Homo sapiens: one gene and its partners. The protein of the gene in region 1 purifies or fractionates together with the protein of each later gene. This does not show direct contact. Each region holds a gene or a part of one and is shown in the gene's direction. Other genes may lie near its edges.

Region 1 (7,025 bases):
GTCCCCTGCTGTGCAGAAGAGTTAAACATGGCAAGCATAAATGTTTATGCTTAGAAAGGCCTTCCTGTAAGGTTGACTCTTGGGTGGCCTCTAGAAACCTAGGTTTCTGATAACAGTGGCTCACTATGCCTGAACTGTTAATACAAACAATATGCTTTATGCAGAACACCTGTTCTCCTGCTGGTAGTCTGACATTTTGGTACAGGCTAGGCAGAGTGTGCCTACATTCTGTGCAGACGGTGCCCCAATAAAAATCCTGGGCACTGAGTTTCTAATGAACTTTTTTATGAAACGCTGTTGAGTTTTGTCAAATTTTGTTCTTTGCATCTATTCAGATGATCGTGTGTTTTGTATTCTACTAATATGGTGTATGACATTGACTTTCATATGTTGAACCAATCTTGCATTCCTGGAATTAATCCCACTTAGTCATGGTGTTTAATACTTTGCTAGTACTTCATTGAGAATTTTTGTGTCTATGTTTGTGAGATATTGGTTAGTAGTTTTCTTTTCTTGTGATGTCTTTGGTTTTGGTGCCAGGGTAATACTAGCCTCATACAATATGTTGGGAAATGGTTCCTCTCAGTTTTTTGCAAGAGTTTGTGAAAGGCTGGTATTAATTCCTCTTTGTTTGATAAAATTCACTAGATTATCTTTTAAAGATGTTTAAAATGAAATATCTTTTACATTTAGCCACTTACTTTTCTCCCTGTTATTTTGTGTAGATCTGTATTTCCATTTGTATCACGTTCCTTTTGTATGCAGAGCTTACTTATTCTATTTATTTAAGAGATAGGGTCTCACTCTGTCATACAGGCTGGAGTGCAGTGTGCAGTCACCACTCACTGCAGCCTCAAACTCCTGGGCTTAAGCAATCCTCCCACCTCAGCCTGCCAAGTAGTTGGGAGTACAGGTGTGCCACTGCACTCAGCTAACTAAAAAAGATTTTTTTTAGATACAGGCTAGCTATGTTGCCAACACACCTAGCTAATTTTAATTTTTTTTTTTTTTTTTTTTTTTTTTTTAAGATACAGGCTATGTTGCTCAGGCTGGTGTTGAAGTGGCCTCAAGCAATCCTCCTGCCTTAGCCTCTCAAATAGCTGGAGCAGCCACTGTCTGTAAGCATCTGAAGAGCTTACTCTAATATTTCTCATAATGCAGATTTGTTTGTGATGAATTCCCTCAGCTTTCATTTGTCTGAAAAGGTTTTCAGCATTTTTAGGATATCATAGCATTGACTTGCCGTTTCTGACAAAATGTTGCTATAATTCTTAACTTTGTTCCTCAGTATGTGATGTGTCCTTTTGTGCATAATGCTTTTAAGATTTTCTCTTCTGGGGCCTGGTGTGGTGGCTCATGCCTGTAATCCCAGCACTTTGGGAGGCCAAGGTAGGTGTATCACTTGAGGTCAGGAGTTCGAGACCAGCCCGGCCAACCTGGTGAAACCCTGTCTCTACTAAAAATACAAAAAAAGGTTGGACATGGTGGTGTGTGTCTGTAATCCCAGCTACTCAGGAGCCTGAGGCAGGAGAATCGCTTGAACCTGGGAGTTGCAGGTTGCAGTGAGCCGAGATTGAGCCACTGCACGCCAAGCCTGGGTGACAGAGCAAGGGTCTCAAAAAAAAATTTTTTTTTCTCTTCTTCATTCTTTTTCAGTAATTTGATCATGATCTGCCTTGGCGTGACTTTCTTTAGGTTTAGGTTTATTCTCCCTCTGGTTCATTGACTTTCTTGGATTTGTGGGTTCATAGTTTCATCGAATTTGGGAAAATTTTCACCTATTATTTCTTTACATAAAGTTTCTGTTATCCCCCTTTCTCCTTTCCTTCTGGACTCCACGTGCACATACACTAGACTGGTATATTTCTACAGAGAACTGATTCTTTTTCATTTTTTTCATTTCATTTTGAATTATTTATATTGCTATGTTTTCATGTCTATTGATCCTTTCTTCTAGTGTCTACCCTGCTATTAGTGGATTTTTCATTTCATATATTTTATTTTTCCTCTTTATAAATTCCATTCAGGTTATTTTTTGTATCTTTCATTCCACTCTGCATCATGTTCATGTTTTCCTTTTCATCTTTGAGTGTATTTGTAATAGCCATTTTAAGATTTTTGCTTCTTTCCTGAACTGTTATTTCTGGGCCCTTTCCTATTGACTAATTTTTCTCCTGGTTATGGGTCACACTTTCCTGCTTCTTTGTATGTCCAGCAAAATTTTATTGGATGCTTGATATTTTGAATTTTGCACAGGTAAGTGTTGGATTGTTTTCTTTAGAGTGTTTTGCCTTTTCAGGAACTTTTGGATGGTTGATCAAGTAGCCTTTGTTCTAGAATTAATTTAGCCGTACTTCTAATGTGTGGTCATTCTAGGTTCCCTACTAAATGCCCCTTATAGTTGATAATGCCTCTACACTCTAGCTAGAGGGAATGTGAATTCTTTCTCATCATGAGCTCAAGGAAATGTTCATCCTACAGATCCCTACTATTCTTTCATGGTAAGTTATTCTTGCCTGGCCTCATGGGGTTTCATGTTGTATATATTCAGATTATTCAACCAAAGAATCAAGGAGGGGACTTCTATGCAAGTTATTGTTTTGTTTTTATTTGCATACCTCTGTTCCTTCCAGGACTCTGCCCTGCAAATTCTAGCTGCTTTTGCCTCCTTGAGCCATGGTCTCTGGCTCAACTCAGTGGGATCATTAGACTCATGTCTTACAGCCTGGTGACACTTCCATGCAATAAGCCGGAGTGGTCTGTTCAGTGACCACAGTACTGCAACACCTGCCAACCAGTGTCTGAAAATAGTGGCTCATGTATTTTGTCCAGTTTCTAGTTGCTTACAGTGGGAGGGTATCCTGGACTGTATTTCCCCTGCATGGTCAGCAGCGCACCTCCATTGAGTCTGCATGTGTTTAATCTGATGGCTCTGTTGGCTGGCGTCTGTTATAGGTTATAAGTATAGCTGCCTGTGCTTCCACCACGAGCACCTGGGGTGTCTTGTGGCATGATTGAGCTAGCTCTGAAGCTGACTCCCTCTTCTCACTCCCTGCCTTTTCTCCCTTACCTTTTGCAGAAAAGGTGTGAGCGGTACTGGGCCCAGGAGCAGGAGCCACTGCAGACTGGGCTTTTCTGCATCACTCTGGTGAGCTGTGGGAGTTTTCAAGGAAGATTCCCAGGGTGGAAAGGCTTTGGGTTGGGCCTAAAAGGTTGAATGATTTAACCCACAGTCCACTCATACTGCAGGAAACCCTCTGGTGTTAGCCTGCAAATAGTTAGAACTTACTATAGGGATAGCCTTTGCATTTTTATTTTGGCTACAATCAGTTAATCTCTGTCATGTAAATGTGCCTGGTTAGGTTGTTGAAATTCTTACTTCTCTTACCATTTCAAAAGAGCTTGGGGAACTCTCTCAAGTCATACATACAGTTAGTACTTAATAAATGCAATAAAAGTTTCATTTTAGAACAAAAGACATCTCTTTTCATTGCAAAAGGGCTTGTGTTTTTATAATAGTTCCTCTTTTGCTCCTGTGTCAAATGTTTCCTTAATGAAAGCTTTGGGGAAAGTTTGGGCTATATGAATTTTTAAAATGTTTTCTGTATTTGATTTTTTAATCAGGAATGCTTTGCTTTCTATAAATGTCTTCTGGTACCTATGATCTTTGTTCTCCTCCCTCTTCTTACTTGCCCCACCCCCCTTACTCAGATAAAGGAGAAGTGGCTGAATGAGGACATCATGCTCAGGACCCTCAAGGTCACATTCCAGAAGGTACTGTGACAGGGGAGGAGGAGGTAAAGGGGCTCCTGAAAGGGGAGAGGTTTCCTCTCCTGTAAAAATGGGCATCATACTAGTACCCACTTCCTCAGTTATTGTCTGGTAGACATAAATGGAAGATGCCTAGAAGTGGGCCTGGTGTATAGTAGATGGCCAATTAATGCTTTTTTCTTTTTTTTCCTAAGTCTTTTGCTCATCTTTTTCTGTGTTTCAGGAGTCCCGTTCTGTGTACCAGCTACAGTATATGTCCTGGCCAGACCGTGGGGTCCCCAGCAGTCCTGACCACATGCTCGCCATGGTGGAGGAAGCCCGTCGCCTCCAGGGATCTGGCCCTGAACCCCTCTGTGTCCACTGCAGGTTTTGGAAATGGGCTTCAGGAGGGTCTGGTGAGGCAGAGGGGACAGAGCATGGAGGGGAGTACAGGGCATGGGGCTAGTCTTGTAGTCTGAGTGCCTATTTTGAGAACCCTTGCTCACCCTCCATGGACTGTAATTGTGAGCACTTGTTCAGCACAGACTCAGCTGGGGAATAAGCACACAGCTCTTGCTCAACAAAATGTAAGTGATTAAAAAGGTTTTCCTTGTTCAGATATAATCTGAAGATTCTGGGAATCAAGAGGCTCTGCAGGGGATCCATCAGGACCCTCACCCCCATCCCCAAATGCCCCATCTAAAAGGGGTTGTGGTCAGGACCTGACCAGGCACACTCTGATTCTCTTGTCAGTGCGGGTTGTGGGCGAACAGGCGTCCTGTGCACCGTGGATTATGTGAGGCAGCTGCTCCTGACCCAGGTACGATACAGGCATCCTGTGTGTGCAGTGTGCTGCCCATGACCACGTGTCCTGCTCAAGTGCCTTGTCTGTCTGCCCCAGATGATCCCACCTGACTTCAGTCTCTTTGATGTGGTCCTTAAGATGAGGAAGCAGCGGCCTGCGGCCGTGCAGACAGAGGTGAACCCTGGGTCTCCTAATCTTCAGGGACAGTGGCCCACTGCTGTCATTTGCCCCTGCCTTCCCTTCTTGATGGTCCCTCACCCCAACAGGAGCAGTACAGGTTCCTGTACCACACGGTGGCTCAGATGTTCTGCTCCACACTCCAGAATGCCAGCCCCCACTACCAGAACATCAAAGAGGTACAGAGGCTCCTTTCCCACTCTCCTGTCCACCATCAGCACCCTCAGAGACCAGGACCCCGAGCAGGGTCCAGCCCCCGGGACTACTGGGAGCAGGCACTGACTATGACATCCACCTGTGCCCTCCTCCAGGCATCCTTATCAGGCTCTCCCATCTTAAGCTTTCTCCCAGAGCCCCTTGAGAGGCCTGGCCAGCTTCCTCCCTCAGGAGCCTCCCCTCCTGTTTTTCTTCAGAATTGTGCCCCACTCTACGACGATGCCCTCTTCCTCCGGACTCCCCAGGCACTTCTCGCCATACCCCGCCCACCAGGAGGGGTCCTCAGGTACCCGGCTCCATCCCCGGATTCTTCCCTGCCCAATTTCTCAGGCTAACCCCTTCTTCATCCTTGGAACACCAGTCCGTTCCTTGTTCACTTCGCCAAGTGTTCGCTGGCCCTTTCTTCGAATTGAGCTCTGGGAACCCACCCCAAGATGATTCAATTATCCCAAGATGATTCATTTACCCCTTGCCTCTGCCTCTAAGGCTTGCCCTGCCTTCTGAGTTAGGCCTTTCCTGGATCCTCTAATCAAACCTTAATTCAGGTGGCTCACCCCTGTAATCCCAGCACTTCGGGAGGCCAAGGAGGGCGGATCACTTGAGCCCAGCTGGAGACCAGCCTGGTTAACATGGTGAAACCCTGTCTCTACTAAAAATACAAAAATTAGCCAGGCGTGCTGGTGAGAGCCTGTAATCCCAGCTACTCCGGAGGCTGAGGCAGGAGAGTCGCTTGAGCCCGGGAGGTGGAGGTTGCAGTAAGCCGAGATCGCACCACGGCAGTCCAGCCTGGGCGACAGAGCGAGATCCTGTCTCAAAAAAACAACAAAAAAAATTCAGCAAATAATTCTAGACGCCGCCTTCTTGTCAGGCCGCACGTTGGGTGCTGCGGACATGGGATTGAGCCGCCTTCGCAGCGGAGACTTAAGGCCCTTGTCCTTGCGGCCATCCCTTCCTGTCTTCTATGCCACTTCCGCATTCTTTTGTTCAGTAGACGTTGACACAGAAATGACCACCCCTCAAACCAACACTCTGCCCCAAATTACCCTCCAGGCTGACCCCGTTCCTCCTTCATCCCCCTAACTTGCAGGGCGCTAGGGACACAGAAGCGAGGCCTCCAACCCAAGGAGCCCTCCCTCCCATCTAGCGCACCGCCTCGGCGGGAAGGAAGCCCGTGGTTTGCGCGCTGAGCAGCCTCCCCACTCCCGCCCTGCCCAGCGCCGCCGTTTCACTTCCTCCCGGCCCTCCCTGCCTGCAGGAGCATCTCTGTGCCCGGGTCCCCGGGCCACGCCATGGCTGACACCTACGCGGTGGTGCAGAAGCGCGGGGCTCCAGCGGGCGCCGGGAGTGGGACGCAGACGGGGACGGGGACGGGGACGGGGGCGCGCAGCGCGGAGGAGGCGCCGCTCTACAGCAAGGTGACGCCGCGCGCCCAGCGACCCGGGGCGCACGCGGAGGACGCGAGGGGGACGCTGCCTGGCCGCGGTGAGTCGAGGCTTGCTCCTTCTCAGGGCATCATCCTGCTGTGATCCGCAGGGCGGAACCATCCTGCAGTGGTCCGTCAGGCCCTGGCGGCCGCGGGGACCCCAGCCGCTAGCCTGGCCACGCCCCGACGCTGATGTCCAGGCGTCCCTGGCCACGCCCCGGAAGCGCCCCCTGGCGGTCGCAGTCGCGGTCCAGGGGCAGGGTTCCTGGCAATACTTGTCTTGGCCGCGCCCAAAGGCTGGAGGCCACGTCCGGGGTGTGTGCCTTCTCCCGCCCGGCGCCCTCGGCTCTCCCCTTCGGGCCTCCGGGGAAGCGTCCCCGCTAGGGGTGGGGTCTTGGGACTCCCTGGGGCTTCCGGAGCTGACCCGTGGGGGGTCTGCTGCCCTCAGTTCCTGCTGACCAAAGTCCTGCCGGATCTGGCGCCTACGAGGACGTGGCGGGTGGAGCTCAGACCGGTGGGCTAGGTAAGTCAGGTAGAGCCTGGGTTGCTGGGACTTTGCTGCTTTGAGTGAACCCAGGAGTCTGGGGTTGATGGGGCATGGAGCTTAGTCCTGTGGATGTGGCTGCAGTGAACCAGGAGGACCTGGAGGCGGGG
Region 2 (7,025 bases), on another chromosome or scaffold:
CAGCCTGGCCAATATGGTGAAACCCTGTCTCTATTAAAAATACAAAAATTAGCTGGATGTGGTGGCACGCGCCTGTAGTCCCGGCTACTTGGGAGGCTGAGGCAGGAGAATCGCTTGAACCCGGGAGGCGGACCTTGAAGTGAGCCGAGATTGCGCCACTGCACTCCAGACTGGGTAACAGCGAGACTCCGTCTCAAAAAAAAAAAATAAATAAATAAGCGGACATTGTGGTGCGCGCCTGTGGTCCCAGCTACGTGGGAGGCTGAGGCAGGACAATTGCTTGAACCTGGCTGGTCGAGGTTGCAGTGAGCCAAGATTGCGCCACTGCCCTCCAGCCTGAATGACAGCGAAACTGCATCTCCAAAAAAAAAAAGTTGGACAGATTTTGAATGTTCAGGCTTTTTTTTTTCAATAGGGGCCTTTCAAATCCCACAATGATACACTTCTTACATTTAACCCAACACAGGCGTACAGCCATGTAACACATTCAGCAAAACAGTATTTACTGTTATGTGCACTGTGTGCTGGTATTTTTTTGTCCCATTTGGTCTCTTAAAATGCTGGTCATGACCTACAAAATTGATTTCCTGACCCACTGTTGATCAGTACTCTGTTTGAAAAATGCTTTTCTAAAGCATAGGCAGGAACTTCACCAGCTGCCTCTTGACACCACTTGAGTTTTGTTAACTCTTCGTCTTCTGGCCTCCATCTTGGGCTCTAGGATTTTTTATCCCTTGTTTGCTTAATTTGGCAGGTTCCTTCTGCCCTTGCCTCTGTAAGGTCTCTGATTGATGGAAGTTCCTGATCTCTCTATTTGAGGATTCCAAAATCATTTCTCTCTTTTTTTTTTTTTTCCAAATAGAGTCTCACTCTGTCCTCCAGGTGAGAATGCAGTGGTGCAATCTCGGCTCACTGCAGCCTCCGACTCCCAGGTTCAGATGATTCTCCTGCCTCAGCCTGCTGAGTAGCTGGGACTACAGGCATGCACCACCACATCCGGGCAATTTATTTATTTATTTATTTTTTTGAGACTGAGTTTCGCTCTTGTTGCCCAGGCTGGAGTGCAATGACGCAATCTCAGCTTACTGCAACCTCCGCCTCCCAGGTTCTAGCAATTTTCCTGCCTCAGCCTCCCAAGTAGCTGGGATTACAGGCATGCACCACCACGCCCGGCTAATTTTTTTTGTATTTTTAGTAGAGACGGGGTTTCTCCATGTTGAGGCTGGTCTCGAACTCCTGACCTCAGGTGATCTGCCCACCTTGGCCTCCCAAAGTGCTGGGATTACAGGCGTGAGCCACTGCACCCGGCAGCAGCTAATTTTTGTATTTGTAGTAGAGACGGGGTTTCACCATGTTGGCCAGGCTGGTCTCGAACTCCTGACCTCAGTTAATCTACCCGCCTCAGCTTCCCAAAGTGCTGAGATTACAGCCTAAAATCATTTCTCTTGACAAAACTATTTCTTGCATCAATTTACTGGGTCGTGGGTGGATAATACATAGAATGAGTTAGTAACTTCGGTGACAACTCTATCTCACAGAACGTTTACCTCTTAAAAGTGTATTTTGGCCTGGTGTGGTGGTTCACCTTTGGGAGACTGAGGCAGGAGGGTTGCTTTAGGCCAAGAGTTTGAGACAAGCCTGGGCAATATGGTGAGACACCATTTCTACCACAAAAAGAAAAAAACATTTAGCCAGGCATGGTGACACACACTTGTAGTCCCAGCTACTTAAAAGGCTGAGTTGGCCGGGCGCAGTGGCTCATACCAGTAATCCCAGCACTTTGGGAGGCCAAGGCAGGCAGATCACCTGAGGCCAGGAGTTCAAGACCAGCCTGACCAACATGGAGAAACCCCGTCTCTACTAAAAATACAAAATTAGACGGATGTGGTAGTGCGTGTCTGTAATCCCAGCTACTCAGGAGGCTGAGGCAGGAGAATCGCTTGAACCTGGGAGGCAGAGGTTGTGGTGAGGCAAGATTGTGCTATTGCACTCCAGCCTGGGCAACCAGAGTGAAACTCTGTCTCAAAAAAAAAAAAAAAAAAGGGCTGAGTCAGGAGGATTGCTTGAGCCCAGGAGCTCAAGGTTACAGTCAGCTGTGATCATGCCACTGCACTCCAGGCTGGTAACAGAGTGAGATGCCATCTTTAAAAAAAAATAAATATGGCCAGGCGCGGTGGCTCACGCCTGTAATCCCAGCACTTTGGGAGGCTGAGATGGGTGGATTAAGAGGTCAGGAGTTCGAGACCAGCCTGGCCAACATGGTGAAACTCCATCTCTACTAAAAATACAAAAATTAGCTGGGCGTGGTGGCGGGTGACTGTAATCCCAGCTACTCAGGAGGCTGAGGCAGGAGAATCGCTTGAACCTAGGAGGCGGAGGTTGCCGTGAGGCAAGATTGTGCCACTACACTCCAGTCTGGGGACAGAGCAAGACTCTGTCTCAAAAAATAATAATAATAAATACAATGAGCTTCTCAAGGGGTTGCCTGCCCTCAGGTAGGCTGCTGTGGGGCACCTGACCTTTTGTGGGGCAGCTCAGTAAGGAGAAACCCTTTAGTGAGGACACTGTTCTGACAGGGCCAAGGCCTGCCTCACTTTTTTTTTTTTTTTAATGAAAAAGTAAAATTTAATGTGGAAAATGCAAACTTGGGGAGGGCAGAAAGATCACACACAAGGCTGTCACTTCACACTTGGAGGGTTGCACAGTGGCCCAACAGAGGCACACCTCACTTGCCAGACGGTGGGGCAGGTGGGCAGAGGTGCTCCTCTCTCCCCAGTCAGTTGGGTGGCCGGGCAGAGGCGCTCCTCACTTCCCAGTCGGTGGGGCGGCCAGGCAGAGCTGCCTCACTTTTTAAAACTGCTGTATCCCACCGGGCGCGGTGGCTCACACCTGTAATCCCAGCACTTTGGGAGGCCAAGGCGTGTGGATCACCTGAGGTCAGGAGTTTTAAGACCAGCCTGACCAATATGGTGAAACCCCGTCTCTACTAAAATTACAAAAATTAGCCAAGTGTGGGGGTGTGCGCCTGTAGTCCCAGCTACTTGGGAGGCTGAGGCAGGAGAATCGCTTGAACCTGGGAGGCGGAGGTTGCAGTGAGCCGAGATCGTGCCACTGCACTCCAGCCTGGGTGACAGAGTGAGACTCTGTCTCAAAAAACACAACAAAACAAAACCCCGCTGTATCCTTACTTCTTGCACTTTATATGTTTGAGAAGGGAGAGGTTTAAACCACAGTAGCATTTCTTCATCCTCCATCCCCTTTGTAATGTAATATTTAAGAATGGCAGGAATCAATTTGGGGAGCTAGCTTGACTGTTACCCATTAATGAACATTTATCTATCCTGTGGTGACATGTTGCCACACCAGGAAATGGAGACTGGTTCTTCCCTGATGGGAGGAGATGACAACTATGCCATAGGCAAGCATCTTGCCGCTCCCAAGAAAGAGAAGTCTCCGCTGCCATCCCACAGCCTTTGGGTCACTGGAGCATGTATCAGTGCCACTCCGCCCACCTTCTTCCTGTGAGGGGTGACTAGGGCTGTGCTCTGTTTGTCATTTGGATGCTTTGGAAATCTGTGGCAAATGAATTGACTTTTCCATGGAAGGAGCATGTGGCACATTCTGGAGTGGCTTCGTGAGCTCCATGTGGAGACCGGAAGAGTGGCAGAGCCCTCGTTCGTCACATGGGGGCCAGCGTGGAGTGCAGCCTGGGCTCTTTGCCCCTGCTTATTTTTTCTTTGCTGGCTCCTTAGGGAAGGTGTGAGAAATTAAATAAATGAACCGGTTTTCTCTCTTCTGATCTGTAAAGTCACCTATTTATTTGTTGGTAACTACATGAAAGAATGAGTGTTGTCTTTAAAGCTTGGGATTAAATGGGCACATCATAGAGAAGCTGTGTGTTCCTTTCCCCTCAGGTCAATGAGCTGAAGGAGAAAGGCAACAAGGCCCTGAGCGTGGGTAACATCGATGATGCCTTACAGTGCTACTCCGAAGCTATTAAGCTGGATCCCCACAACCACGTGCTGTACAGCAACCGTTCTGCTGCCTATGCCAAGAAAGGAGACTACCAGAAGGCTTATGAGGATGGCTGCAAGACTGTCGACCTAAAGCCTGACTGGGGCAAGGTCAGCTGTGGGCAGTGGAGGGAGAGAGGCCCTTCAGACCCTTCCAGAAATGCCTTTTGGTGGCCTGAGGTTTACCTGTCCTGATACACTGATAGTTACCTACCCACCTCCCTGTTTGAGTATCCTCCTCAGAAATGGCATTTTTCATCAAATCTAAGGTAGCCATTAGTTGTAATACAGGCTTTATTTTTGGTACTAAGAAGGAAGAGGCCAGGGCTGGGCGCGGTGACGCACGCCTGTGATCCCAACACTTTGGGAGGCTGAGGTGGGCGGATCACTTGAGGTCAGGAGTTCAAGACCAGCCTGGCCAACATGGTGAAACCCTGTCTGTACTAAAAATGCAAAAAAATTTAGCCAGGCATGGTGGCATGTGCTTGTAGTCCCATCTACTCAGGAGACTAAGGCAGGAGGATCACCTGAGCCTGGCAAGCGGAGGTTGCAGTGAGCTGAAATCGTGCCACTGCATCCAGCCCAGGTGACACGGCAAGACCCTGTCTCAAAAAAAAAGGAAGAGGCCCGGTACAGTGGCTCACGCCTATAATCCCAGCACTTTGGGAGGTTGAGGCAGGAGGATTACTGGAGCCCAAAGGTTTGGGACCAGCCTGGGTAACATAAGGAGTCCCTGTCTTTACCAAAAAAATAAGGGAAAAAGTGTTGCCAAAGAAACTGACCACAGTCGATCAGAGGTGAACAAGGCGGGGCGGATGTGCCTCTGCTATTTGGATGGATCCTTACAGTAGCAGCCTTGGCCTCGTAGCCTACTCCTCTCCTTTTTTTCTCTTTGGCCTTCATGTGAATACTCATTTTTCCCCCATAAAAGTAGAATTGTTCTTTTTTGAGTTCGTCTTCTAGATTTACCTCTGGGTGTTCTCTATTTTGTGTCTGTCTTTGGTGGTTTAAGGGCTATTCACGAAAAGCAGCAGCTCTAGAGTTCTTAAACCGCTTTGAAGAAGCCAAGCGAACCTATGAGGAGGGCTTAAAACACGAGGCAAATAACCCTCAACTGAAAGAGGGTTTACAGAATATGGAGGCCAGGTTGGCAGGTAGGTACCACGCACAGTTTTCTTTCTTATTATTAATGTGATTAATTTTGAGTCTTCACCCCTGAGAAATGTCAGTCTGGTAGGGTATGGGACACAGTAATTCTAGTGAACTCATTTCATAGTGATGTGCTTTCCTTTATTTGGACAGAGAGAAAATTCATGAACCCTTTCAACATGCCTAATCTGTATCAGAAGTTGGAGAGTGATCCCAGGACAAGGACACTACTCAGTGATCCTACCTACCGGGAGCTGATAGAGCAGCTACGAAACAAGCCTTCTGACCTGGGCACGTAAGTGGACGCCGCTCACTGAGGTTCTGGAAATCGGGGAATGTTATGCTTTCTTCCTGTAACCTCACAGCAGAGGGTTCCCTGGTCTAAACTGCAGAGTTTTTGCCTTTGCTTATTCTCTGCAGAGCAGTAGGTGGTGGTCGTTTATTTGTAATTATAGAAAGGGTCAGGGGAGCATATTTCACAGTAATCTAGAATGTTCTTTGTCATCTGTATACACCTCTCTCCTGCTCTTCTAGAACTCTGATCTAGCGTCAACCCCATCCTTTCCATCTACTTAGGCCCTACTTTCTCTGTTGGTATATCAGAGTGGAAACAGGGTTGAAGTTCATGTGTAAAGATGTGTCTAAATCTTGTACTGGTATTCATCTCTATCAATCCTCTGGCTCCTGAGATCAGCTACGGAAGTATACCTAAAACAACTCATTCCTCTGTGTATCTGCTAACCTTGAGGAATAAACTTGACCTCTGTGACTTCATTTTATTTTATTTTATTTTATTTTATTTTTTCAAGATGGAGTCTCGCTCTGTCCCCTAGGCTGGAGTGCAGTGGTGTGATCTCAGTTCGCTGCAACTTCCACCTCCTGGGTTCAAGCGATTCTCCTGCCTCAGCCTCCTGAGTAGCTGGGATTACAGGTGTACGCCACCACGCCCAGCTAATTTTTGTATGTTTAGTAGTAGCGGTGGGTTTCACCATGTTGGCTAGGCTGGTCTCAAACTCCTGACCTCAAGTGGTCTGCCCGCCTCGGCCTCCCAAAGTGCTGGGATTACAGGTGTGAGCCACCGTGCTCCGCTATCTGTGACTTCATTTTATTTGTTTTTGTTGACTCTATTTTAGATAGTGTTTTGACGGTTTGAGTATTTCTCAATTGTAACTCATGAGTGGTGCAAAATCTAGCCATCTTTTGATGGGTGAGGAGCTTCTAAACACAAGAATCTGACTTTAGTAGTAAGTGGGAGTTAAAAGACTAATTGTGGGGAGGAGTAATTACAATTTTTCTTTATTTTTTTAAATCAATACTAGGAAACTACAAGATCCCCGGATCATGACCACTCTCAGCGTCCTCCTTGGGGTCGATCTGGGCAGTATGGATGAGGAGGAAGAGATTGCAACACCTCCACCACCACCCCCTCCCAAAAAGGAGACCAAGCCAGAGCCAATGGAAGAAGATCTTCCAGAGAATAAGAAGCAGGTCTTGTTTTTTTCTCTCCTCACTGTCACCTATCTATAAACAACTAGAAATCTTTATGTTGAATGGGGACATCTGTTGACCTTGATTGACCATGATTATTATGGTTTTTTTAGAGACGGAGTCTTGCTGTGTTTCCCAGGTTGGTCTTGAACTTCTGGCCTCAAGCGATGCTCCTGCTTCAGCTAGGATTACAGTCACGAGCCACTGTGCCCACCTAAAACTATTTTGAGTGCTTTAGTATGCGCTAAGCTTATGGCTATTATTCATTAGAATGGCCAGCATGTTAAAAAATCAGCTTCAGGCCAGGCACGGTGGCTCATGCCTATAATCCCAGCACTTTTGGAGGCCAAGGTGGGCAGATCACCTGAGGTCAGG
Region 3 (6,840 bases), on another chromosome or scaffold:
AAAATACATGAGACTTTATCAGATGTCTTGTTTAAATCAATATGCAATGGCTCACTCTTTTTTTTCTTTTTGAGAATGAGTCTTGGTCCATCGCCCAGGCTGGAGTGCAATGGCGCGATCTCGGCTCACTGCAACCTCTGCCTCCTGGGTTCAAGCGATTCTCCCGCCTCAGCCTCCCAACTAGCTGGGATTACAGGTACCACCATCATGCCCGGCTAATTTTTGTATTTTTGTAGAGACAGGATTTCACCATGTTGGCCGGGCTGGTCTTGAACTCCTGACCTCAGGTGATCTGCCTGCCTCAGTCTCCCAAAGTGCTGGCAAGGTGTGAGCCACCATGCCTGGCCGGATCACTCTTATTTACCAGTTTAGTAACTCTAACCAGAAAGAAGATGGGGTTAAACTCTAACCAAAAAGAAGATGGGGTTAAAATGGCTTGTTCTTATGAAAACTCAGGTTCAAATGACTTGTAGGTTCTACCAGTCACAGAAAAATTCAAACCTTAGTAAACAATCCACGGAAACAGGAAAAGAAGGCATACCCTACAGCTCATTTTTGAAGCTAAAAGTGACTTTGGGCCAGGCACAGTGGCTCATACCTGTAATCCCAGCACTTTGGGAGGCTGAGGTGAGCAGATCACCTGAGGTCAGGAGTTCAAGACCACCCTGGCCAACATGGTGAAACCCGTCTCTACAAAAAATACAAAAATTAGCCGGGCATGGTGGTAGGCACCTGTAATCCCAGCTACTCAGGAGGCTGAGGCAGGAGAATTGCTTGAACCCGGGCGGTGGAGGTTGCAGTGAGCTGAGATCACGCCACTGCACTCCAGCCTGGGTGACAGAGCAAGACTCCATCTCAAAAAAAAAAAAAAATTAAAAAAAAAGGTGGGGAGGTGATGGAGGCAGAACCTATGGATTAAAAAGAACTAAAAGGGAGTATCTCTGAACCTATTCTGGTTCAGGAACTTCCGGATTAAAGAAAAAAAAAGAACTAAAAGAGTCAGACTAATTCTTACGTGCAAACAAGTTTAGGAACCAATGATGCAAACTACATAGGTAAGACATAAGCAGGCATGAAGTGGCTAGGGAACAGAATTTAAAAGTCTTAATTTTTTTTTCTTTACCAAAAGCAGTTATATTTCTGAAAAGCTGAGTTTTAAAGATGGATTTGGAAGGAAGAATGGTGCCTGACTCTTAAGTTCTATAATATTTTTCAATTAAAAGCTGGTGCTGGCTGGGCATGGTGGCTCACACTTATAATCTCAGCACTTTGGGAGGCCAAGGCGGGTGGATCACCTGAAGTCAGGAGTTCGAGACCTGCCTGGCCAGCATAGTGAAACCCCATCTCTACTAAAAAAAGAAAAAAAAATTAACCAGGCGTGGCAGCATGCGCCTGTGATCCCAGCTATACTCAGGAGGCTGCGGCAGGAGAATTGCTTGAACCCAGTAGGCAAAGGTTGCAGTGAGCCGAGACTGCGCCATTGCACTCCAGCCTGGGCAACAGAGCAAAAACTCCATCTCGAAAAAAGAAAAAACGAACAAGGCAGAGAGGTCTCTCATCTTGAGAACAGACCCATGGTAAGATTTATTTTACTTTAACAAGAAGTCTAAGGCTGAGAGTGGTGGCTCACACTTGTAATCCTAGCACTTTGGGAGGCCCAGGCAGGCGCATCACTTGAGGTCAGGAGTTTGAAACCAGCCTGGCCAACAGGTGAAACCCTGTCTCTACTAAAAATACAAAAAAATTAGCCGGGCATGGTGGTGGGCCCCTGTAGTCCCAGCTACTCGGAAGGCTGAGGCACGAGAATCGCTTGAGCCCGGGAGGCAGAGGTTGCAGTGAGCTGAGATCACGCCACTGTACTCCCACCTGGGCGACAGAGGGAGACTCCAACTCAAAAAAAAAAAAAAAAAAAAAAAAAAGAAGTGTATATGACAATAGAGAAATCCTTATTTGGGTGCTGTTGTTTCTTTCCAGCACAAGTTCACAAAATAAGCTAGGGAAAATCCCCCCCGCCCGGGAAATGTCTTGGTTGATTTCCCGTTTGCTCTCTTAGAGCATTTTCAGACACCTGCTCTATCTTTCTGCCCAAAGATAGAGATGCTGGGTGGGTTTCTATGTTCTAGGGATAGAAGGCAAGGACTTGGTCACTGTAACACAGAACTGAGCTAGCCACTTGGGTGTCTGGTTGGCAAGTTGCCCTGGTAACTCCTTGTTTAAATTGTAAACTAGATAGACCTTCAAAGCTACAATTATGAAAGTGTACTAACAGCCACAGCCCAACAGAAATGAAAATGTACAAGCAAGTACATTTGCAATTTTTAATTAGCTTTTTTTTTTTTGAGATGAAGTCTCCCTCTGTCGCCAGGCTGGAGTGCAGTGGCGCGATCTCGACTCACAGCAACCTCCGTCTCCCGGGTTCAAGCGATTTTCCTGCCTCATCCTCCCGAGTAGCTGGGTCTACAGGCGCGCGCCACTATGCCCAGCTAATTTCTGTATTTTTAGCAGAGACGTTTCACCATGTTGGGCAGGATGGTCTCACCTCTTGATTTCGTGATCCGCTTGCCTCGGCCTCCCAAAGTGCTGGGATTACAAGCGTGAGCCACGGAGCCCGTCCAATTTTTAATTAACACTTTTTTAATACTTCTTTAATTATTGTTTAAACCAAGTTTTCCAGCCTCCTTCATTAGCCTGTTTGGTATTTGCATGCTTTGCTTGAATATTTTATCTCCAGCCCATTCCACACCGTTAGTCAACATTTTCATCTGACAGACGGAATCAAGGCCTAGGCCTCCCTTAAACAAAACATCCCTCCCAAAAGTACCACTTATAAAAATTGCTTGCCACAGACATTCTTGCTACAGACATTCTTTGCGGATCTTTGGCCAGTAACATGCATATACCCACACATAGTTTGCAAATAACAACTATTCAACGTGAAGTGCTACAAAAGTACGATGATAAAGTGCTCGCCGCTTGAAGAAAAGCACTAATAATTGTAACAAAGCCAAAACACACACACACACAACGAAAAAAAACGCACGGTAAGCCAAGAGCTCTTTAAAAATAAAAAATAATCATTCTCGGGAACAAATAAGGTAGGTACAAACTTGCCAGGTGACTCTGTTACGCTTAAAGGTTCTGGCTGTCAACAGTCCCCGGCGTGGTGGCGGCGGCACCCTCAGTCCCATCCGACTGAGGGCGTTGATGCGGGAGCCTCGGGGCTGCGGGACTGTTCGGGATAGGACGCGAGAGCACCTGGACAAAGGCCTGAGGCGGCTGTGCAGAACAGGGAGTGGCCCCGAGGCCCGGGTTTGTCTTCCCTTCCGGTCACCCCTCCCGGCCCAATGTCCCCAGGCCCCTGCTTACCCCGCTGGGCGCCGTATCCCTGCGCTCGGCGCCGCGCTCCGGAGCGAGTTGACAGCCGCGGCAGGCGAAGGCGCGGCAGAGAGGGGGGAGAAAGGTCTTCTTCCCCGCCCGCAAGACCACCATGGCCCCACGCCCCCTGGCTCCCGCGGCGCACGGCAGCATTGCGACGGCGCGAGGGGCCGCTTTACGGCAGGGTCGCGAAGCCCGAGGAAGCGCGGCGGCGCGGCCGACCGTGCGCTTTCCCAGCGGTGCGACGGGGTGAGGGGGCGGCGGGCGGCGCGGGCTGACCCGGGCGGCCGCTCCTTGGTCGCGGTCACTCCAGGCTGCCTCGCTGCGCCGCTGGCGGTGGGCGTGGCGCTGCCGGCGGCTAGGCGCGGACGCCGGAGGAGGTGTCCCCGGGTTTAGGGGTGTTCGGCCAGGGGCGGGGCTGCCGGGCCCGGGCGACTGCCGGAGCTGCGGAAGTCGTGGAAGCGTCGGCGACGCATCGCGCGATGGCGCGGGCGGGACAGGTGAGCGAAGCGCGGCTTGTAGCCTTTTCCCTCTCTCGGGGGGACGAGTGGGGCACCACCTCCGCGCGGGGCTCCCCGCTGGGCCACCCCTTCGCCAGCGCCCAGCCCCGTGCGGCCTGTCGGATCAGGCAGGGCAGAGTCGGTCTCGGCGCTGTCCCCGCCCCTGGGGTCGGAAGCGACCGGGGCTGGCCGGGCCTGGTCTCTGGTGTCTCCGGCCGGGCCTCGGTTCCCCTCCTCCCCCGGCTTCCCCCGGCCGGGCCGAGCTCCCCTCGCGCGCCCATTGTGAGGTCACGTCCTGCAGGCGCGCCCTGGCACCCGGGCCAAGACGCCCGGAGCGGCTGCTGCAGCCAGTAGCGGCCCCTTCACCGGCTGCCCCGCTCAGACCTAGTCGGGAGGGGTGCGAGGCATGCAGCTGGGGGCCCAGCTCCGGTGCCGCACCCCGTAAAGGGCTGATCTTCCACCTCGCCACCTCAGCCACGGGACGCCAAGACCGCATCCAATTCAGACTTCTTTTGGGTAAAGGGCCAAGAGGGAAGGGCGAGGCGGGGAGGAAGCAGCTCGGGCCGCCTTCCCTCCGTGGCCTCCAGGACATCCGCCGGGGATAGATTATGCGTTTCCATTGGTTACCCACCTTGAGCGAGCCGTTTGATAGAAACCAAGAGCTTGAAACGTGCATTAGGCCATTGTGGACTCCCAGTGGGAGGCGAGTGAATGAATTATTCATAGTTACCACGTTTTCGCGGGTTGTTTTTTTTTGAGAGAGTGGAGCATGTTGGGGGCTGAGGAGGTGTTGGGCCTCGAAAGCCCAAGGTGGTGCCCTTCAGCGCTGTCCCGGTCGCTCTTCTTTACCTGTGGGGTTTTAATCTCTTCAGGGAGACTTCTGTGAGGGAAGATGTGTGAGGAGCTAAAAGGGTGGGGAGGGGAAGTGCACAAAGGGATGGAGAGAAACGAAGAAGCGGGGACCTTGGGGATGTCTGAGAGCCACTGGTTTTTGTTCTGGTTCTTTCTTTTGCTTAGAGTTTCTGGAAACTAGGCATAGCTGTGTGGCGGGGCGGGGTACTGTTAGTGTTCGGAAGGTTACAAGAGCTACTGTTTCACCTTTCATAAAGGTGCCCTGCTGGTTCCAAATAGTTTGTGTCGCGTACGGTGACTCACACCTTAATCCCAGCACTTTGGGAGGCGGAGGCGGGCGGATCGTCTGAGACCAGCCTGGGCAATATAGTGAGACCTGTCTCTACTAAAAATAACATTAGCTGGGCGTAGTGGTGTACGACTGTAGACCCAGCTACTGGGGAGGCTGAGGTGGGATGACTGCTCAGAAGTATACCTTTTTAAAATGAGAATTTTAGAATGACTTAATATACCATTAGTGTTCTGCAGAAGCCTTGTGCTGTAGTAAGTTATCATTCTTGTCGTCTTTTAGTGCTTGTGAAACTGAACACAACAAAAGTATGGATATGGGAAACCAACATCCTTCTATTAGTAGGCTTCAGGAAATCCAAAAGGAAGTAAAAAGTGTAGAACAGCAAGTTATCGGCTTCAGTGGTCTGTCAGATGACAAGAATTACAAGAAACTGGAGAGGATTCTAACAAAACAGCTTTTTGAAATAGACTCTGTAGATACTGAAGGAAAAGGAGATATTCAGCAAGCTAGGAAGCGGGCAGCACAGGAGACAGAACGTCTTCTCAAAGAGTTGGAGCAGAATGCAAACCACCCACACCGGATTGAAATACAGAACATTTTTGAGGAAGCCCAGTCCCTCGTGAGAGAGAAAATTGTGCCATTTTATAATGGAGGCAACTGCGTAACTGATGAGTTTGAAGAAGGCATCCAAGATATCATTCTGAGGCTGACACATGTTAAAACTGGAGGAAAAATCTCCTTGCGGAAAGCAAGGTATCACACTTTAACCAAAATCTGTGCGGTGCAAGAGATAATCGAAGACTGCATGAAAAAGCAGCCTTCCCTGCCGCTTTCCGAGGATGCACATCCTTCCGTTGCCAAAATCAACTTCGTGATGTGTGAGGTGAACAAGGCCCGAGGGGTCCTGATTGCACTTCTGATGGGTGTGAACAACAATGAGACCTGCAGGCACTTATCCTGTGTGCTCTCGGGGCTGATCGCTGACCTGGATGCTCTAGATGTGTGCGGCCGGACAGAAATCAGAAATTATCGGAGGGAGGTAGTAGAAGATATCAACAAATTATTGAAATATCTGGATTTGGAAGAGGAAGCAGACACAACTAAAGCATTTGACCTGAGACAGAATCATTCCATTTTAAAAATAGAAAAGGTCCTCAAGAGAATGAGAGAAATAAAAAATGAACTTCTCCAAGCACAAAACCCTTCTGAATTGTACCTGAGCTCCAAAACAGAATTGCAGGGTTTAATTGGACAGTTGGATGAGGTAAGTCTTGAAAAAAACCCCTGCATCCGGGAAGCCAGGAGAAGAGCAGTGATCGAGGTGCAAACTCTGATCACATATATTGACTTGAAGGAGGCCCTTGAGAAAAGAAAGCTGTTTGCTTGTGAGGAGCACCCATCCCATAAAGCCGTCTGGAACGTCCTTGGAAACTTGTCTGAGATCCAGGGAGAAGTTCTTTCATTTGATGGAAATCGAACCGATAAGAACTACATCCGGCTGGAAGAGCTGCTCACCAAGCAGCTGCTAGCCCTGGATGCTGTTGATCCGCAGGGAGAAGAGAAGTGTAAGGCTGCCAGGAAACAAGCTGTGAGGCTTGCGCAGAATATTCTCAGCTATCTCGACCTGAAATCTGATGAATGGGAGTACTGAAATACCAGAGATCTCACTTTTGATACTGTTTTGCACTTCATATGTGCTTCTATGTATAGAGAGCTTTCAGTTCATTGATTTATACGTGCATATTTCAGTCTCAGTATTTATGATTGAAGCAAATTCTATTCAGTATCTGCTGCTTTTGATGTTGCAAGACAAATATCATT
Region 4 (7,025 bases), on another chromosome or scaffold:
AGGCCACAATGAGAAAAAATTCCAGTTTTTGGGATGATCAGACACCAGTGTCCTTCAGATACGGGCATGCACGGGTGACAGTGGGACCCGTTTTGGAAGGGTAGATGAAAGCAGTGTTCTCTCACCCCTGGGGATTTCCAGGCTTCTCACTTGGGTGTGAGGTCCAAATCGTCCCTGAACCTCCTGTAGATACTTATTTTTCCTGGGCCTTCCTGATTCCCAAGGTTCTTGGTGTAGACCAGCTTCCTAGTTGCTGTTTCAGCAACCCTGTTCCTGTAGTGGGCAGGGCTTCTCTCTGCCTGGGATTGACTAGGGAAAGTCTTGGGGCTGTCTGAACTGGCTCATTGCCCTGCTGTCAACACAAGGCTGTCACTCTCATCCAAACCTTTTACCAGATTGGAATCTTGTCATTCTGGAGCCTTAGCAGAGTTTGAACTGATGTTGCCTCTGGCTTTGCTCAATGGTTTTTCTCTATACAGTCATCTCTTGGTATCTGTAGGGGATTGGTTCTAGGACTCCCATGCAGGTACCAAAATTCATGGACATTCAAGTCCTTTCTTTTCTTTTTTCTTTTTCAATACAGAGATTGGGTCTTGCTATGTTGGCCAGGCTGGTTTCAAACTCCTTGCCTCAAGCTATCCTCTTGCCTTGGCCTCCCAAAGTGCTGGGATAAGAGGTGTAAGCCGGCCGGGCATGGTGGCTCACACCTGTAATCCCAGCACTTTGGGAGGCTGAGACGGGTGGATCACGAGGTCAGGAGATCGAGACCATCTCGGCTAACACAGTGAAACCCCGTCTCTACTAAAAATACAAAAAAATTACCCGGGCATGGTGGTGGGCGCCTGTAGTCCCAGCTACTCAGGAGGCTGAGGCAGGAGAATGCTGTGAACTTGGGAGGTGGAGCTTGCAGTGAGCTGAGATCGTGCCATTGCACTCCAGCCTGGGCGACAGAGCGAGAATCTGTCTCAAAAAAAGAGGTGTAAGCCACTATGCCTGTCCTCAGATTCTTTCTATAAAATGGTGTAGTATTTACATATAACCTACACACATCTTCCTGTATACTTTAAGTATTCTCCAGATTGCTTATAATACCTAATATAATGTTAATGCTATGTAAATAGTTGTTTACACTGTATTTTTTATTTGTATTTTTTAATTGGTATATTTTTATTTTTTAATTTTTGGAATATTTTTCATCTGTGGTTGGTTGAATCCATGGATGCAGATATGGAGAACTGACTGTACAGTGCTCTAGATAAATATAGGAGGCTGCTTTAAAAAAAAAATACAGAAAGAATACAGGTTAACACCACAGAGTCTCCCTGCTGACCCCATAGTGTATTTTGTACAATGTTTAGATTGTTGCTGTAATTTTTAAATACTCTCTCGGATTTTATGAAAAGAAAAACTTCAGACTAGTTAAATTTAGCAGAGTTTATCTGAGCAAAGAAACTATTCATGAATCAGGCAGCACCCTGAACCAGTAAAGGTTCAGAGAGCTCCACAAGGCAAAAGTGGGCAGGCAATACTTACAGAAAAAAGAGGTGATACAGAAATAGCCTGATTGGTTACACCTGGGTGGTTGCCTTATTTGGACTTGACTGGGCAGTCTGCAGCCTGGGATTGGCTGAAAGCTCCCCTGTTATGATTGGCAGAGACCCAGCTACTTGTTACAAGAATATACTCTTAGTTAGGTTACGGTTTGTTTACACACTAAGTTAGGTTGTGGCTTGCTATTTATGGAGGCAGCTTTAGGCCAACATTTTTTTTTTTTTTTTTTGAGACAGAGTCTCGCCCTGTTGCCCAGGCTGGAGTCCAGTGGTGCGATCTCGGGTCACTGCAAGCTCTGCCTCCTGGGTTCACACCATTCTCCTGCCTCAGCCTCCTGAGTAGCTGGGACTACAGGGGCCCGCCACCACGCCCGGCTAATTTTTTTGTATTTTTAGTAGAGACGGGGTTTCACCGTGTTAGCCAGGATGGTCTCGATCTCCTGATCTCGTGATCCGCCCGCCTCGGCCTCCCAAAGTGCTGGGATTACAGGAGTGAGCCACTGCGCCCAGCCTAGGTCGAATTTAATTTGACAATCTGGTCCCCAGAAACACACCAGGAGGGCTGTTTCCTTTTGTCTTGCCTAGTGGCAAAAGGGAAGATAGAGTCATGAACAATTACCTGCTCTCCCATACATTCTTTGTAGAGCAGCCGGAGGGAGCTAGCTTTAAAATAATCGTCAAAAACCTCTTTTTTTTTTTTTTTTTGAGATGGAGTTTCACTTTTGTTGCCCAGGCTGGAGTGCAGTTGCGAGATCTCGGCTCACTGCAACCTCTGCCTCCCGGGTTCAAGCGATTCTTCTGCCTCAGCCTCCCGAGTAGCTGGGATTACAGGCATGCGCCACCACGCCCGGCTAATTTTTTGTATTTTTAGTAGAGACGGGGGTTTCACCAGGTTGGGCAGGCTGGTCTGGAACTCCTGACCTCAGGTGATTCGCCCGCCTGGGCAAAGTGCTGGGATTACAGGCGTGAGCCACCGCACCCGGCCTGTTCCACCCTTTTAAAGAAACTGTTCTGCTGTGACTGGCTGGTGGTCTTGCATGAGGAGAATATCATTAAGGACGGGCTCTGGCTTCTTTAGAAGCCCTATACTCAAGAAGGGGTGCAGCACAAAGCCCACACACGTGGGGCTCACCTTCTGGTGAGAGACCTTGTGACCAACGGAGAAAACACAGCAACTTGTTGAAGAGAGGAACTTCTTCTCCATTCCCCACGTAATCTCAGGCAGTTCAACTCAGCAAATGTCTATGTGAAGTCTGAGTGGCCAGCCTTGTGGTAGCTGCTGTGGGCTCACAGAGAGACAGACACACAACATCTCACCTCTAAGAGATTATTAGCTACTCAAGAAGATGAGTCTCAACATGAAATTTTAAAACAGTAGTTTTAATTTAATTAAATTATTTATTTTTGAGACAGGGTCTTGCTCTGTCACTCAGGCTAGAGTGCAGTGGTGCGATCACGGCTCACTGCAGCCTCAAACTCCTGGGCTCAAGCAATCCTCCCAAGTAGCTGGAACCGCAGGCACATGCCACCACGCCTGGTTAATTTTTGTATTTTTTGTAGAAACGCTGTTTCACCATATTGCCTAGGCTGGTCTCAAACTCCTGAGCTCAAGCAATCTGCCTGCCTTGGCCTCCCAAAATGCTGGGATTACAGGCATGAGCTACTGCACCTGGCCAATAGTTTTTAATATTAACATAAAATTAAGGTTATTAAAATATATATTATTAGTGATTTGGTACTTTCCCAACTTTTTTCCTCCATGCATAATTATAATCCTATAGTATCTGTACTATCTTGTATTCTACTGCTTTAATTAAAATATCGTAACTTTGGCTGGGCACAGTGGCTCATGCCTGTAATCCCAGCACTTTGGGAGGCCAAGGCGGGTGGATCACTTGAGATCAGGAGTTTGAGACCAGCCTGGCCAACATGGTGAAATCTCGTCTCTACTAAAGAAATACAAAAATTGGCCGGGCGCGGTGGCTTACGCCTGTAATCCCAGCACTTTCAGAGGCTGAGACAGGTGCATCACAAGGTCCGGAGTTCGAGACCAGCCTGGCCGATATGGTGAAACCCTGTCTCTACTAAAAATACAAAAATTAGCCGGGCGTGGTGGTGGGTGCCTGTAGTCCCAGCGACTCGGGAGGCTGAGGCAGGAGAATCACTTGAACCCGGGAGGCGGAGGTTGCAGTGAGCCAAGATCACACCACCATACTCCAGCCTGGGCAACAGAGTGAGACTCCGTCTCAAAACAAACAAACAACCGAAAACAAAAATTAGCCAGGCATGGTGGTGGGCACTTGTACTCAGCTACTTGGGAGGCTGAGACAGGAGAATCGTTTGAACCCAGGAGGCGGAGTTTGCAGTGAGCTGAGAGCATGCCACTGCACTCCAGCCTGGGCGACAGAGCCAGACTACATCTCAAAAAAAAAAAAAATTATAACTTATTTTATATATTGCTATCTACTTTCCCTAACAATTATTTAGAAAAGTTTTGTGAGTGATACAACTATTCTGTCACTGTTTGGCATTTATGTAATTTCTAGAGTTTTCTTTTCTTTTCTTTTCTTTTTTTTTTTTTTTTTTTTGAGACAGAGTTTCGTTCTTGTTGCCCATGCTGAAGTGCAATGGCACGACCTCGGCTCACTGTAACCTCCGCCTCCTGGGTTCAAGCAATTCTCCTGCCTCAGCCTCCCAAGTAGCTGGAATTACAGGCATGCACCACCATGCCTGGCTAATTTTGTATTTTTAGTAGAGATGAGGTTTTTCCATGTTGGTCAGGCTGGTCTTGAACCCCTGACCTCAGGTGATCTGCCTGTCTCAGCCTCCCAAAGTGCTGGGATTACAGGCATAAGCCACCGCACCCGGCCCAGTGTTTTCTATAATAAAGAATGTGGTGCATGTCATTCGTGTAAGGTATTTAAAATTGGGATTCTTTAAGTATCTATTTCTGGAAACTCAAGACAGAACTCATCATTGCCCAGCCATTTTACTATGTTTCTCTAATAAGTCACTCTTGCCCTTTCTGCAGTGATAATTTCATGCCTTTTCCACTCAAACCTACACATCCCTCCCACATTCTCACTGTGTTTTGGTGATCTTGCCTCTACTCCATTAAGAAACCAGACAGCAGGGCTGGGCGTGGTGGCTCATGCCTGTAATCCCAGCACTTTGGGAGGCCCAGGCGGGTGAATCACCTGAGGTCAGGAGTTGGAGACCAGGCTGGTCAACATGGTGAAACCCCGTCTTTACTTAAAAAAAAAAAAAAAAAAAAATTAGCCAGGTGTTGTGGTGGGTGCCTGTAGTCCCAGCTACTCGGGAGGCTGTGGCAGGAGAATCGCCTGGACTTGGGAGGGGGCGGTTGCAGTGAGCCAAGGTCACTCCGCTGCACTCCAGCCTGGGCAACAGAATGAGACTCTGTCTCAAAAAAAAAAAAAAAAAAAAAAAAAAGAAAGAAAAAGAAAGAAGAAAAAAAGAAAAGAAAAAAGAAACCAGAGCAGCTGGTGAAAGCTCACTTACCTTCTGTATAAATAGGATTCAGTTTGGCTGCAAGTAATAGAAAACCCCAAAACAACAGTGGCCTAGACAAGGAAGAGGTTTATTTCTCTCTCATCTACAAGCCCCTGATTGGTCATTCCAGGGCTGGCATGGCTGCCCTTGGGGTGAGGACCCACACTCCTGTCTGCTTACTCCAGTGGTGCCTGGTTCAATGCCTGGCACATGACAGATTCTCAGTAATACCTACTGAATGACTGAAAAAACCATTAACTAACAGAAGGACATTGAAAAACTTTTGATATGTAGAACCAGGATGATTTCCTAAAGAGTGGGCCTATTCTCAGTGTTCCCAATAGTATGTGCGGATGCTAGTTTCACTCTGTCAGTCATAGCTATTGTCTTTTTTTCTGCTCATTCAATAAGCAAAACTTGGTGCCTTATTCAACTTTCATTTGCGTTTTTATCACCAGGGAGAGTGCACATTTGGTTATTTTCTTGTAATTCCTCTTTTACAAATGGTTTTGTTTTCTTCCTCATGCTTTGCTTGTAAATTTATATGCATATTTTAAAATATATATTTTTGTATATATACACGTGTGTGTGTGTGTGTGTGTGTGTGTAATTCACATGTTCTAACATCCAGTATAGGCATGACACAGTGAGAGGCAGTCCTCAGGCCCTCAAGCTTTTGCACTGGACATTCCCGGGTTTGATTCCCAGTTTGGCTCCTTTCAAGCCAAAGAATGTGTGTGCCCGTGTTCAAATTATTCAGCTTTCCTCAGCTTTGCCTCCTCATCTGTAAAATGATATATGTATATGGATTTTGAAAACACTTTATACAGTCAAGTTTATTGATCTAAAGTTTTGTGATTTCTTCTATTACACTTCGAGGTTTTCTGTGGTCCAAGTTTTACTCAATATGTGTCTTATGATTGGGCGCTGTGGCTCATGCCTATAATCCTAGTACTTTGGGAGGCCGAGGTGGGACAATTGCTTGAGTCCAGGGGTTCAAGACCAGCCTGGGCAACATATTGAGACCCTGTCTCTACAAAAAAAATTTTAAAATTAGCAAGGCATGGTGGCCAGTACCTGCAGTCCCAGATAATCAGGAGGCTGAGGCAGAAGGATCACTTGAGTCCATGCGGTTGAAGCTGCAGCGAGCCGTGATTACACCACTGCACTGCAACCTGGATGACAGAGCAAGACGCTGTCTCACTAAAAATACTGTCTTTTGAGTATGAGGGCTTAAGTGTTCTGACATTTGCAGAAGTCAGAGACCTGTGTGGACCTGCAAAATGAGGAGGAGGTGGATTCCTGCCCTCAGGGTCCTACATTCTTCTTAAGGAAGCAAACAAAGATGTAGGACACTAATGGGAAACAGACTGACCTACTCTCCTTCAGGCTAAAAAGAGTGGTTTACCTGCCGGGATGGTGGCTCCTGCCTGTAATCCCAGCACTTTGGGAGGCCAAGGCAGGTGGATCACGAGGTCAGGAGATTGAGACCTTCCTGGCTAACACGGTGAAACCCCGTCTCTACTAAAAGTAGAAAAAAATTAGCCAGGTGTGGTGGCATGTGCCTGTAGTCCCAGCTACTCAGGAGGAGAATTGCTTGAACCTGGGAGGCAGAGGTTGCAGTGAGCCGAGACTGCACCACTGCACTCCAGCCTGGGTGACAGAGCGAGACTCCGTCTCCAAAAAAAAAAAAGTGGTTTACTGGGGCAAGTTTCTTTTTCTTTTTCTTTTTCTTTTTCTTTTTAGTAGAGATGGGGTTTCACCATGTTGGCCAGGCTGGTCTTGAACTCCTGACCTCACATGATCCACCCACCTCGGCCTCCTAAAGTGCTGGGATTACAGGCATGAGCCACCATGCCTAGCATACCAGGGCAAGATTCTTGGACAAGTCTGGCTGGGTGAGTGCGATAGGGTACCACTCCTTGAAGAGTGCTAAAATGGCACCAGGCATGCAACAAGATGGGG

The links.
Region 2: the proteins of PTPN18 (region 1) and STIP1 purify together in Homo sapiens (affinity purification with mass spectrometry, with the first as the bait; 2 studies listed by BioGRID). This does not show direct contact.
Region 3: the proteins of PTPN18 (region 1) and BAG5 purify together in Homo sapiens (affinity purification with mass spectrometry; 2 studies listed by BioGRID and IntAct, with this or other methods). This does not show direct contact.
Region 4: the proteins of PTPN18 (region 1) and PSTPIP2 purify together in Homo sapiens (affinity purification with mass spectrometry; 4 studies listed by BioGRID and IntAct, with this or other methods). This does not show direct contact.

What each region holds. Positions count from the first base shown.
Region 1 is NC_000002.12:130,366,054-130,373,078, forward strand, and holds part of PTPN18 (tyrosine-protein phosphatase non-receptor type 18), read left to right. Parts: intron 1-3,079; coding exon 3,080-3,148; intron 3,149-3,711; coding exon 3,712-3,774; intron 3,775-3,994; coding exon 3,995-4,137; intron 4,138-4,503; coding exon 4,504-4,570; intron 4,571-4,651; coding exon 4,652-4,729; intron 4,730-4,821; coding exon 4,822-4,911; intron 4,912-5,145; coding exon 5,146-5,234; intron 5,235-6,203; coding exon 6,204-6,430; intron 6,431-6,819; coding exon 6,820-6,894; intron 6,895-7,025. UniProt on the Homo sapiens protein: Differentially dephosphorylate autophosphorylated tyrosine kinases which are known to be overexpressed in tumor tissues.
Region 2 is NC_000011.10:64,189,164-64,196,188, forward strand, and holds part of STIP1 (stress-induced-phosphoprotein 1), read left to right. Parts: intron 1-3,914; coding exon 3,915-4,124; intron 4,125-5,025; coding exon 5,026-5,167; intron 5,168-5,315; coding exon 5,316-5,457; intron 5,458-6,481; coding exon 6,482-6,650; intron 6,651-7,025. UniProt on the Homo sapiens protein: Acts as a co-chaperone for HSP90AA1. Mediates the association of the molecular chaperones HSPA8/HSC70 and HSP90.
Region 3 is NC_000014.9:103,559,651-103,566,490, reverse strand, and holds the start of BAG5 (BAG family molecular chaperone regulator 5), read left to right. Parts: upstream 1-3,833; 5' UTR 3,834-3,875; intron 3,876-4,170; exon of another isoform or gene 4,171-4,578; intron 4,579-5,298; 5' UTR 5,299-5,326; coding exon 5,327-6,670; 3' UTR 6,671-6,840. Other genes in the region: COA8 (cytochrome c oxidase assembly factor 8), read right to left, coding at 3,367-3,489. UniProt on the Homo sapiens protein: Co-chaperone for HSP/HSP70 proteins. It functions as a nucleotide-exchange factor promoting the release of ADP from HSP70, thereby activating HSP70-mediated protein refolding.
Region 4 is NC_000018.10:46,062,258-46,069,282, reverse strand, and holds part of PSTPIP2 (proline-serine-threonine phosphatase-interacting protein 2), read left to right. Parts: intron 1-7,025. UniProt on the Homo sapiens protein: Binds to F-actin. May be involved in regulation of the actin cytoskeleton.